Linked DNA regions of Homo sapiens. The protein of the gene in region 3 interacts with the protein of the main gene of each other region in a biochemical or structural test. Each region holds a gene or a part of one and is shown on either strand. Other genes may lie near its edges. The genes, in order: BTRC, CSNK1E and PER2.

Region 1 (3,650 bases), on a different chromosome or scaffold from region 3:
TTTTTAAAAAAGGGAAGAAAACTGACACAGGAATAAAGTCAACATGTAAAAACAGAAGCAGCAACAAGAAAGTCGAGGGAATAATGGAGGAAGTTGACACGGGATGTATAAGTATTTGGAATTTCATGGGTTTATCATGGGATTAAGAGGATAAACATGCCCAAAGACAAGGGGATATAGTCAGAACTCTGAAGGATACTCAAAAGAGCGGGAATGGGTTTCTGTGGATAAAGAGATAGGGGAAAAAAGTGGTAATTAGTGCTGGATCCTGGATTACTTCACCTACCCTTTAGAAAGGCTCAAAAGCCATCTTCTCAATGATTGTTTTTTCTTTGTAACTAACATAAAAGATCTTGCCATTTAGTGCCAATCCCAAGCAAAACTGTGGAGCCTTTTACCTTTGGCATTTTCACATCCATCTGCCAAGAACTGCCCACTTACTTCTTGATCTTTCTGCCTTCAAAAAAGGACTCAGTAAACTCCCAATTTATGATGAAGGTTTACTGTCATTTACAGTCCAAATGGGAACACAATGTATTTTAACAGGTAACAGAACCTTTATAGCTAAAGGAATGAATCTCCTTAACTGAAATTTCAGGAGTTATTTGGAGACGAGATTCTTTTTTTCTGAGGGATACAGAAATCTTCTCAGCTGCCCTAAAATTTTCTCATGTAAGCAACTGCCTGCTGTATCCCCAAGGCTGGTCCCAGCACTCTTAGCAAAATGATGGACCCCGAATACCATATAACTCCATTTTTATTTGCTTTGTTGTACTATTAAAGAGTTTATTTCCAAAGTATGAAGTAGGTTATGAAAGATTTCTATTTTTCTATGTAGCGAAATAAGAATTAAAAAACATATTTGAGAAGTAGTAATAATATTCTTTTGTGTGTGTGTGTGTGTGTGTGTGTATGTGAGAGAGAGAGAGAGAGAGAGAGAGAGAGACAGAGAAAGAGACAGGGTCTTGCTCTGTTGCCCAGGCTGGAGTGCAGTGGCATGACCACAGCTCACTGCAGCCTCAACTTCCCAGACTCAAGCCATCCTCCCACCTTAGCCTCCTGAGTGGCTGGGATTACAGGCATGCGCCACCAGGCCCAGCTAATTTTTTGATTTTTTTGTAGAGATGAGGTCTCAATATGTTGCCCAGCCTGGTATCAAACTCCTGGGCTCAAACGATCCTCTTGCCTTGGCCTCCAAAACTGTTGGGATTACAGGCGTGAGCCACCCCACCCGGCCAACAATATTCTTTGTTACACAGCCTAAAAATTGCCTAGTTTTTTTGTTCCTTTAATTCAATTTGAGAGAAAAATTTAAACAGTCTTCCTAATAGCCAGAATGATAAAAATCTGAGGCATTTGGTATAATATTTATAGGTCATTGTATTTATTATGTGTTAATAAATTTCAAAGATAGAAAAAAAGAAAGAGAGCCAACTACTTTTTCATGAAAATTCAAAGGAAAGCTGGCCCATGAATATTTATCTTTTAAAAGTGTTCTCTACTTTTAACTGTTTTCCTCTTTATGATCCAAGATAAACAACTGATAAAATTAATTTGGAAGGACATCACTAAGCACACACATGCCTATTATAATTTTTTCTGTCAATGAGAATATTTAATATGTCACCTTTATTTGTGAACTATTACTACGTAGCTTTCCTATAGTGACATTCTAGAGACATACTCTGAGAGAAAAGTATTTAAAGAAAGATATCTTTCAGAAGTTCTAATGAAATAGTACTGTTAAGAGAACAACAAAAAAATTAGTGAAGTCTCTTAGACTGCTAACTATATGATGCTTTGGGGAATTCGGAATTAAGTCAGAAAATCTTGAAAAACAGAAGTCTTAAGAAGAAACAATGATTTATACTTAATTTCATTTTCACTTTTTCTGATGGCTAGAGTTCTTATTCCACTTGGGCTTAAAAATAATTTTTGATTACAAAGGTGACAAAACACCAGAGGCATAAGATAAAGGCAAGAAATTTTCTGAAAGAAACCTAGGGTTCATGCGATTCTCCTGCCTCAGCCTCTACAGTAGCTGGGATTACAGGTGCACGCCACCATACTCGGCTAAATTTTGTATTTTTAGTAGAGTTGGGGTTTCGCCACGTTGGCCAGGCTGGTCTCAAACTCCTGGCCTCGAGTGATCTGCCCACCTTGGCCTCCGAAAGTGCTGGGATTGCAGGCGTGAACGCACTGTGCCCAGCCACAGGATACCAACTTCTGCCCAGATAACAGAATGTTTTAAACAGGAGGGCTGATCAGCTTTCCATTATTTTTTGCAAAGCAGTATTAATACAATATCATGTCATTTTGTGAGTGACAGGTAAGAAGAAAAACTGCTGAGTATATGAACATTTGTTCTCTGTTACATTTTAAGCTAGAAATCAACAAAATCACCATATTAAATGAGAAGTGGTCTCATTGGCTCCCCAAAAATCTTTCAGTGACTGTGAATGGCCAGGTCCTGAAGCCGTATAAGAGTAAGAAAAGTTAAAGGCTCACCATCCTCTTCGTTCTGCCAGGCCTCTCCACAGAGAATCTGTCCTGACCATTCTCTCGATAAGCTTCTTCCACAGCATGCCATCAGAGGTCACTCGGTACCATTCCTTGCACACAAGTTCAGCAGCACATAGTGATTTGGCATCCAGGTATGACAGAATGTTCTCAGCAATATGATCCAATCCCCGAGCTTTCAGTAGGGGGAGGAGGCAAAGAAAAAGAACACAGAAGGTGGCGAATGATTTTTTACAAAAGGTCCTTTAAAACAGAACAGCATTTGTTCTGCTATGAAGGCACATCATTGTCCCTAGTGTGGTCCAGTTTCTTTTTCAAACAGAGGCTTGGGTAAAATGAGTGTCAATAATTTTTCCATAAGGTTACAGAAATGAACAGTATTTTCCATCTTCCTTTAGATAAGGAAGTTAAAGCTAACAACCAGCAAACCCCCCAAGACATTAAAAATAAAAAGGATTCCAGAAAACAATTCACATCTATCTATATGGATTTCAGCACTAGGGGATGTTCTATGGATGGCATCTCAAACTCTATGATTCAGACCCCCCCAAATCTCTATATTAGGTCCATTTCTCATTCTGTTTCTATTACTGCTGTAGTTCCAAAGCTGTTCGGTAAAAGAAATGTCCTTTAAATGTACTAGGGGAGAGGCACTAAGTCAGAATGTGCTGGGTTATAGAATTTTGGGCATGCAGAAAGGAGAGAAGAAGGAAATACAGAATGGCATGGAAATATCCCAAGAGAAAGACAGAGATGTATGTTTAAGTTCAAGAATGGGTTTAATTTCAGATTTAAAAAAACTATATTTGAGAGTAGCTGCTGCTATAAAACCTAAATGACAGTTGGGCAAAAATGAAAAAAAATTCCAGACCAAAAGATAACTTGGTTAGCATTTCAGAGAATATTTTGTAGGAGGTGCAGAGGAAAACAGTGGAGAACAGATCTTGGGGAGTGTAAACCAGAAGGGCTTCCCAATTAAAGTTCTCCACCACCCAAATCTGTACTGAGGTCTCAGAAGAAAAGATCCTATAAAATAGGATGATCTCACTAAAAAAACTTCTTTTGCCTGCTGTTCTACATTTACAACTGAGATAAAAACATTCAAAGTTATTTCTGTTTACAAAGTACAT
Region 2 (3,650 bases), on a different chromosome or scaffold from region 3:
CCCACCGGCAGAGGCCATCTGGAGTCAGGCCCTGGCAGAGCACTGGGGATAAGAATGTGGCCAGAGTGTTGAATAAATGGAGCCAGCAAGGCTGGCCGGGGACGCCCTACAATCACCACTGTCCCCAAACCAACAAGACAGGGGCCCAGGAGGGTGCTGGCAGGATGGTGAGTCAGGGCAGGGTCCCCTGAGGCCCTTGCACCAGTGAAGATGGGAGAGTCAGGAGTCTGACTCGCCTCCCCAGACTCAGACCCAGAGGACCCAGACCCTTCGAAATCAACTCCGAACTAGAAACTAAGACCAATGGTGGGGGCGCAGCGCACAGCACTACTGCTGGGCCCAGCACACGTGGGTATTTTACACGCCACGACCTCATTACTTTGCACGACCCCATTTTGCAGATGGGGAAGCCAAGGATGGACAAGGTCATCACCTGCTCAAGCGCATACAGCTCACAAAAGGAAGAACCAGCACCCAAACCTAGGTCGAATTTACTCTAGAGCCAGTACAAAGAGGAGTAAATCTGTACTTAGTTTTTAAAATGAATGAGATGACTATGCAGATAAACAGGAAGTCCTGTCCCCAGGGAGGTCCCACCACACAAGATTCTGGATTTTCTGAGTGATCTTGGGCTGTCCCCGCTCCAGCCATGGGCCTGTCTCCTGTCTGCAAAAAGAGCGACGGGACCTGGGATGGGCGCTGTCTAGGAACAAGTCTGTGCCAAGAGCTGTCTCCATGCCCTTTGACCTCCAGCCAGTGGCTCCAGACTTCAGTGCTCAGCCCAACAGCTTCAATAATACGAGGGTCCTTTACACCCACTCCAATTTCACAAACAGTAAGGAGCTGGGTACACTCATTTCAGATGAGAAGACTGAGGCTCAGAATGATATGGTGACTTACTCCAGGTCACACAGCAAATGAGGAACACGCTGGGGATCTGAACCTGGACTGGCCCCCACATCTCAGCCCTTTTCTTTCCTTCTTTTTTTTTTTTTTTTGATGGAGTCTTGCTTTGTCGCCCAGGCTGGAGTGCAATGACACGATCTCAGCTCACTGCAACCTCCACCTCCCAGATTCAAGCCATTCTTCCGCCTCAGCCTCCAGAGTACCTGGGATACAGGCATGTGCCACCACACCCAGCTAATTTTTGTATCTTTAGTAGAGACAGCGTTTCACCATGTTGGCCAGGCTGGTCTCGAACTCCTGACCTCAAGTGATCTGCCCGCCTCGGCCTCCCAAAGTGCTGGGATTACAGGTGTGAGCCATATCTCCTGGCCTCCTTTTTTTTGAGACATGGTCTCACTCTGACACCCACGCTGGAGTGTGATCTCAGCTCACTGTAGCCTCAACCTCCATGGCTCAGGTGATTCTCCCACCTCAGCCTCCTGAGTAGCTGAGATTACAGGCGCGTGCCGCCATGCCCAGCTACTTTTTATATTTTTCTTGTAGAGATGGGGTCTCACCATGTTGCCCAAGTTGGTTTCGAACTCCTGGACTCCAGCAATCTGTCTGTCTTGGCTTCCCAAAGTGCTGGCGTTACAGGTGTGAGCCACCGCACCTGGCCATCCCGGCATTTTTCTATTCTGCTGTGAGGCTACTGTGCATGTCTGTGCATGTCACAATCCCCATTTTCTCATTGGTTTGCTTGACTAGCCTTCAGTGAACACCCACTGCGCTGGGCACTAGCAGATATTACCAAATGCCTGCCTCCCCGGGAGTAGCTTGGGGTCGCAGAGAAAAACCTTTAAACCAGCTGCACCACACACTCTCCCTCCCTCTGAGCTCCAGGGTGTCCATAGGGGAGGCTCATCTACTAAGCACTCAGCAATGAACTGCACATCTGGCTGGCACTTTAGAGTTTACAAAATACTTTCCCATCTGTCATTTCATCTCTGCCTTGGAACAGTTCTTGGTCAGTCAGGCAGCATTATCACAAACTACAGATGGGGACACTGAGGCACAGAGGAGCTGCATGACCTTCCCACAGCCACACAAAGCCACGTCTAGAACGCAGAGCTAGACGTCTAACGTCTCCCTCGGCATGTTCTGTCTTCCACGCTCTCACTCATGTGGAGGGCTGTGGGCATACAGGCTGCTTCTGCCAGTTTTCTAGAGCGGTCTTGGGAGGCCAACTTGACCATCTGTGCCTCAGTTTCCTGATGTGCCAAACAAATAATCTGGTACTATCTCTAGGGGCTGCAGAAAGTACCCTGCAAGGAAGTGGTCAGGGAACTCCCAGTCTCCGTCCCCGTCTCCATTGAGGCTTCCTTAGCACATTTCATACTCCAAGGAACCCTAACCATGGGGTAACAGAAACCCCGAAGTTCTGAGCTGATGGACACGACACACAGACTTGGTGTTCTCTGCACTGGACAGAGCTGATTTTCATTTTCCAAGGAGGGTAACCAAGGCACAGAGGTGTGTCTAGCCTGCTTCTGAGGGTGCAGGGACAGGAATGAGGATAACTCGTAGAAGGGCTGGCCACCTCACTCCAGCAACTTCAAGCCTCCACCCGCTAATCCACAAGCACCAACACTAAATACCTTCCCTTTGGACCAATAAGCACAAAGGAAGGGCCAAGACTCATGACCGTGCCCCTCAGAAGTGGCACTGAAAGGCGCAAGCCTCATTTCTCCCAGGCCAAGGGGAGGACTGAGAGGTCAGTGATTTGTTTAAAATGCAACATCACAGCATACTCATACTTTCAACAGGAAGCACATCCGGAGAGAAAAAGAGAGAGAGAGAACTCCCTAATGAGGAGACCGCATCCCCCCACCCCACCCCCGAGGTTACAGGGGAGCCTGCGTCATCCCAAAGCCTGCCTGGGCTGGGTTCCAGGAGGCCAGGACATAGAGAGGGGGGCCTGGCTAGGGGTCCAGCAGCAACCCAAGTCCCTTCTATCTACCAATATCCTTCTCCCAGGAAGCAGGGGAGAGGATGTGAACCCCGCCTGGGTTTTCCCACACCCAGCTGGTGACCCAGCTGACCCGGGACACTGAGGCACAAAAGAACCGCATGACTCCTGCAGAAACTGGAGCTAAAAATACCCTCCAGTGCCCAGCCTGGCCTGCGAGAGGAGCCCCCTGGCCTGCCTCCCGGCAACCTGCTGCTTCCTTCCCCATCTGGGATGGCCCTGGGGCAAATCATGCCCCTGGAGCCACATTCTGACTTCAGATCCCCAAATCCTGGGGTCTTTCCTCCTCTTGGTCCCATGGGCTGGCCCCAGGGGCTCCAGCTGGAGCTAGGAACACTTACCCAGGTAGATATCTCCGAAGGACCCGCTCCCGATCTTCCGTCCCAGGCGGTACTTGTTCCCCACACGTAGCTCCATGGCTCACTCTTGCTGCAGAGGAAGCAGGAACATGAGGGTCAGCGACGTGGGGAGCCGGGAAAGGGGTCCAGTCCACCAAGGCCAGGCAGAGCCACCAGGAACTCGAAAACCTGCATTCTCGAAGACCACATTCTGCAGGTGTCAGGTGGCCCACAGCCTGCACTCCACACACCTGGGGAACAGCTAAGGCAGGCTGAGGACAGGTTTCAGTGTGGCCAGAGAGGAAGCAGCCAAGCAAGCATGTCTTTGGGGGATGCTCATTCAGGGGCCCCTCAAAAGAAGCTTCTCAAGGGATCACAACGGGCATCAGCCCTCTTAC
Region 3 (3,650 bases):
CAACCTCCGCCTGCCAGGTACAAGCCATTCTCCTGCCTCAGCCTCCCAAGTAGCTGGGATTACAGGCATGCACCATGATGCCTGGCTAATTTTTGTATTTTTAGTAGAGATGGGGTTTCACCATGTTGGCCAGGCTGGTCTTGAACTCCTGACCTCAAGTGATCCACCCACCTCGGCCTCCCAAAGTGCTGGGATTACAGGCGTGAGCCACCGCGCCCAGCCGGGGTACCATTTCTAATCCTGGTGGTGAACATCAGCAACACTGACAGCGTTGTGTTAAGCAGCCTGGGATTTAATGTGATTTATGGGCCATGTTAACATTCAGGCCAAGGGCCCCTCTGAGACACACTGGAAAGAGGGCCTGCCCTAGACTGACAACTTGAGACCAGTGTGGCTGCATGAGGGGGTCAGCAGACGGCCCCTCAGTGTGGCCGCATGAAGGGGACCAGGAGATGTCCCTGCAGTGTGTCTGCATGAGGGGGGTCAGGGGACGGCCCCAGGCCTCCAGTAGCCCCACTGGCTTCCTGTTCTCAAAGCCAAGGCTCTGACAGAACCATCTTTGCCTCTAGTTCCTAAGAAGGGTGCTGACTTTTGAACTACTTTCATCATTTGAAAAACAGCCTACACCCTTACACTGTGTCCACAGAAGCCATGGGGACGTCTGACTCTACTCCAGAGGATTTACATTATTTCACATGTACATGGCTCTACACAGATTAGATACCTCCAGCGTGTGGCCCTGGGCTGACTGTGGCCTTCCGCTTATCACTGGACCTTAGCGCTGGGACGTTTGCTGGGAACTCGCATTTCCTCTTCAGGGTGGCAGCCTCATTGCAGCTCTCCAAGTACCTGTGTGAAAGGCATGAACCACTGGTGAGGCCACACAACATGAGAGGAGGGAAGGTGTGTGAGATGGTGGAGACTCGGCTGGAAATGCCGGCATACCTGATGACGCTGTCCAAGCAGCTGATCTGCTGGTAGGAGCAGGTGGGCTGGTTCTTGCAGGCCAACTCCTCGGGGAAGCTGACCCCCAGGCTGTCCTTTTCCATGGCAGGGACAGCTTTCTTCTCAGCTGGGGGATTAGTTTGCATTTCTGAAGGAATGGCAAAATTGTTCTTTCATTCATTTTTCTCCCACAGAAAACGCTGTGTATTTACAAAGCATTTTCGTTCTACCTGAAGACAGGGCTGGGGACTCAGAATCTGCTTCATGAGTATGGAAGCCTGGGGACAGCCTGGCATCTGGCAGCCCTGTGGGCACGAGCACCACAGTGCCGTCCACAGAGAGACCTGGGGGGGGAGCTGCTGCCCAGCCTGGTGTCTGCTTCTCTCTGGGGTCTAGGCTGTCCCCAGGGGTCAGGGACTCAGCAGTGGGAGACAGCAGTTCTCACTTGAACTCTTAAACTTTCAGGGCCAATGAGAGCCCACGTACTTTATGCTCCTCCTGGGCCAGGCCAGTGTTTTCAAGGTGATCCCTGCTAGTAACAATTATGATGACAACTGCCTGCTCACTGTGCTGCAGATTCGACTCTTGCCCCAACGACATTCATCACATGCCTGTCCCCTAGGGACCCTCAAGCAAAGAGCTGTGTCCAGCTCATTAGCGTGTCCCCAACACCCAGCACAGAGTCCAGCAGGCAGCATGTCCACCAACACATCCCCAAGGCCAAAAGTCCTAGCGGTGTCTGGCCAGAGTGTTCCCCACGGGAGGCTTCGGCCTGAGCACAGAGAATGAGCAAGGGCCCACCAGGGGGAGGGGACTGGGATGCATGCATGTGTGCACACGTGTCTGTGTGCATGCTGTGTGAGAAATACATGCGGGACAGAGGAGCAGCATGAATCTGAACCCGCGCATGACACTGTGAAGCTGCCTGGGAAGTGTGGCGCTGTGGTAGGAAAGGGCTGCTGCAGTGGGGGTGGGTCGGCAGCCCCTGGGTGGTACTCCCCACTTCAGACAGGTTTGGTTTGAGTGTATGTGGATGCTGGGCAAACCGTCGGCAGTTGTGTGTGTGTGTGAGTGAAGGGTTTGCAAGTGTAAACACACAGCCATACAGCTACTCTGTACAGCAAGAACAAGCGGCCCAGGCCGTGGCTCCCAGGCACACCCTGCTGGCAGGCCAGGGTGCAGGAAGGCACACTGGTCACAGCTCCCCAGGCCTGCACACCTAGCCACACCCCGCCAGGCCTGCAGGGCATCAGGTGCCCAGTGTGGACATCAGTGCCTGCACTGGCTGAGTGCAGGACTGGGCTGCTCTCGCCTCTTGGAAGCTGCAGACTGTGCTGAACGCAGAAGGGGGTGTGACACGGCTACAAGGTAGACTCCCTGCCAGCCAGAGTCAGCATTTAACCCAGGTTCCCTCTTCTCATGTGGCCATACTCTAGTTTCAGTAAGGAAATGTTGAATATTTTTTTTTTTACCTGTAACGGATTTTTTCTTTTGTTCTCCAGATTCATGAGAATAATGACTTCTATTTTTGGTCTTGTTACCATTTTTACAAATTTCCTTGAAGAAAAACAAAATGAACACATTATTCATTCTAGGAGACCTCCTTCAGTCTGTCCGGCAAAGTGAGAACAGAGGATGGCTGAAATAATTTCAGCAACACAGAAGGAAACTGTGGATGAGAAATCTGACAGGTGTAGAGCTAGATAAAACCTATTTGATGATCCTAAAGAATAATAAAAAATAAAGCAAAACGGCACATTACATTTTTTTTTTTTTTTAAGACAGAGTCTTGCTCTGTCACCCAGGCTGGAGTGCAGTGGCGCAATCTTGTCTCTCTGCAACCTCTGCCTCCCGGGTTCAAGCCATTCTCCTGCCTCAGCCTCCCGAGTAGCTGGGATTACAGGGGCGCGCCACCATGCAAGGCAATTTTTGTATTTTTAGTAGAGACGGGGTTTCACCACCTTGCCCAGGCTGTTCTTGAACTCCTGACCTTAGGTGATCCGCCTGCCTCGGCCTTCCAAAGTGCTGGGATTACAGGTGTGAATCACCGCACCCAGCCCACATTTTCTTCTTTCTATCCTAGTTAAATCTTCACTTTTGCTTGTTTTGTCTGTTTTAAATAATTTTCAACCAACACTTAGCTATGGTTTCTAGCTCTTTCAACTCTTAAGAGATTAAAAAGTCCCAAGTGGACAAAGTTTAGAAAGGAAGCAGCAACAGCTGCAATCAGGAAGCCCCTCCTAACTGCCAAAGGTTGTCTTGAGTGTGCTTTTTAACTCTGGAGGGACATCCACAAACTCATTTTCTCAGGGAGAATGGAAGGAGACGTACGGCTCTCCTCCGGCGTGAGTCCTCATGGCCGTTGCTGTCGCTGGAGGAGGTCTGGCTCATAAGGTGCTCGTGGGACCCGTTGCTGCCCAGACTCCCGTAGCCACTGGAGCCGCTGTGGGGGACGGGCTGGGGAGACAGCAGACAGCGCTACAGACACAGCCAGGGCTGCTGAGCTATGCATGTGGCCCCCTGCCAACACACCCTGTTTCGCAGAGAGGATGGCGACCCGCCTAAGGCTACATGGCAGAGACCAGGGGAGCTGAGGTTTGAACCCCAGGGTCAGCTCCAGAGGTAGACTCCTGGCCTCCAGCCGCGGTGCCCCGACCCAGACATGCAGTCACCGAGGAGACGGCACCAAAGGAATGTGTCCAACC

The links.
Region 1: the proteins of PER2 (region 3) and BTRC form a complex in vitro, tested with the Homo sapiens proteins (one study listed by BioGRID).
Region 2: of the proteins of PER2 (region 3) and CSNK1E, one has a biochemical effect on the other in vitro, tested with the Homo sapiens proteins (one study listed by IntAct).

What each region holds. Positions count from the first base shown.
Region 1 is NC_000010.11:101,525,058-101,528,707, reverse strand, and holds part of BTRC (F-box/WD repeat-containing protein 1A), read right to left. Parts: intron 2,696-3,650; coding exon 2,509-2,695; intron 1-2,508. UniProt on the Homo sapiens protein: Substrate recognition component of a SCF (SKP1-CUL1-F-box protein) E3 ubiquitin-protein ligase complex which mediates the ubiquitination and subsequent proteasomal degradation of target proteins. Recognizes and binds to phosphorylated target proteins.
Region 2 is NC_000022.11:38,310,827-38,314,476, forward strand, and holds part of CSNK1E (casein kinase I), read right to left. Parts: intron 3,344-3,650; 5' UTR 3,332-3,343; coding exon 3,256-3,331; intron 1-3,255. Other genes in the region: TPTEP2-CSNK1E (casein kinase I), read right to left, coding at 3,256-3,331.
Region 3 is NC_000002.12:238,257,552-238,261,201, forward strand, and holds part of PER2 (period circadian protein homolog 2), read right to left. Parts: intron 3,403-3,650; coding exon 3,277-3,402; intron 2,503-3,276; coding exon 2,418-2,502; intron 1,094-2,417; coding exon 946-1,093; intron 850-945; coding exon 725-849; intron 1-724. UniProt on the Homo sapiens protein: Transcriptional repressor which forms a core component of the circadian clock.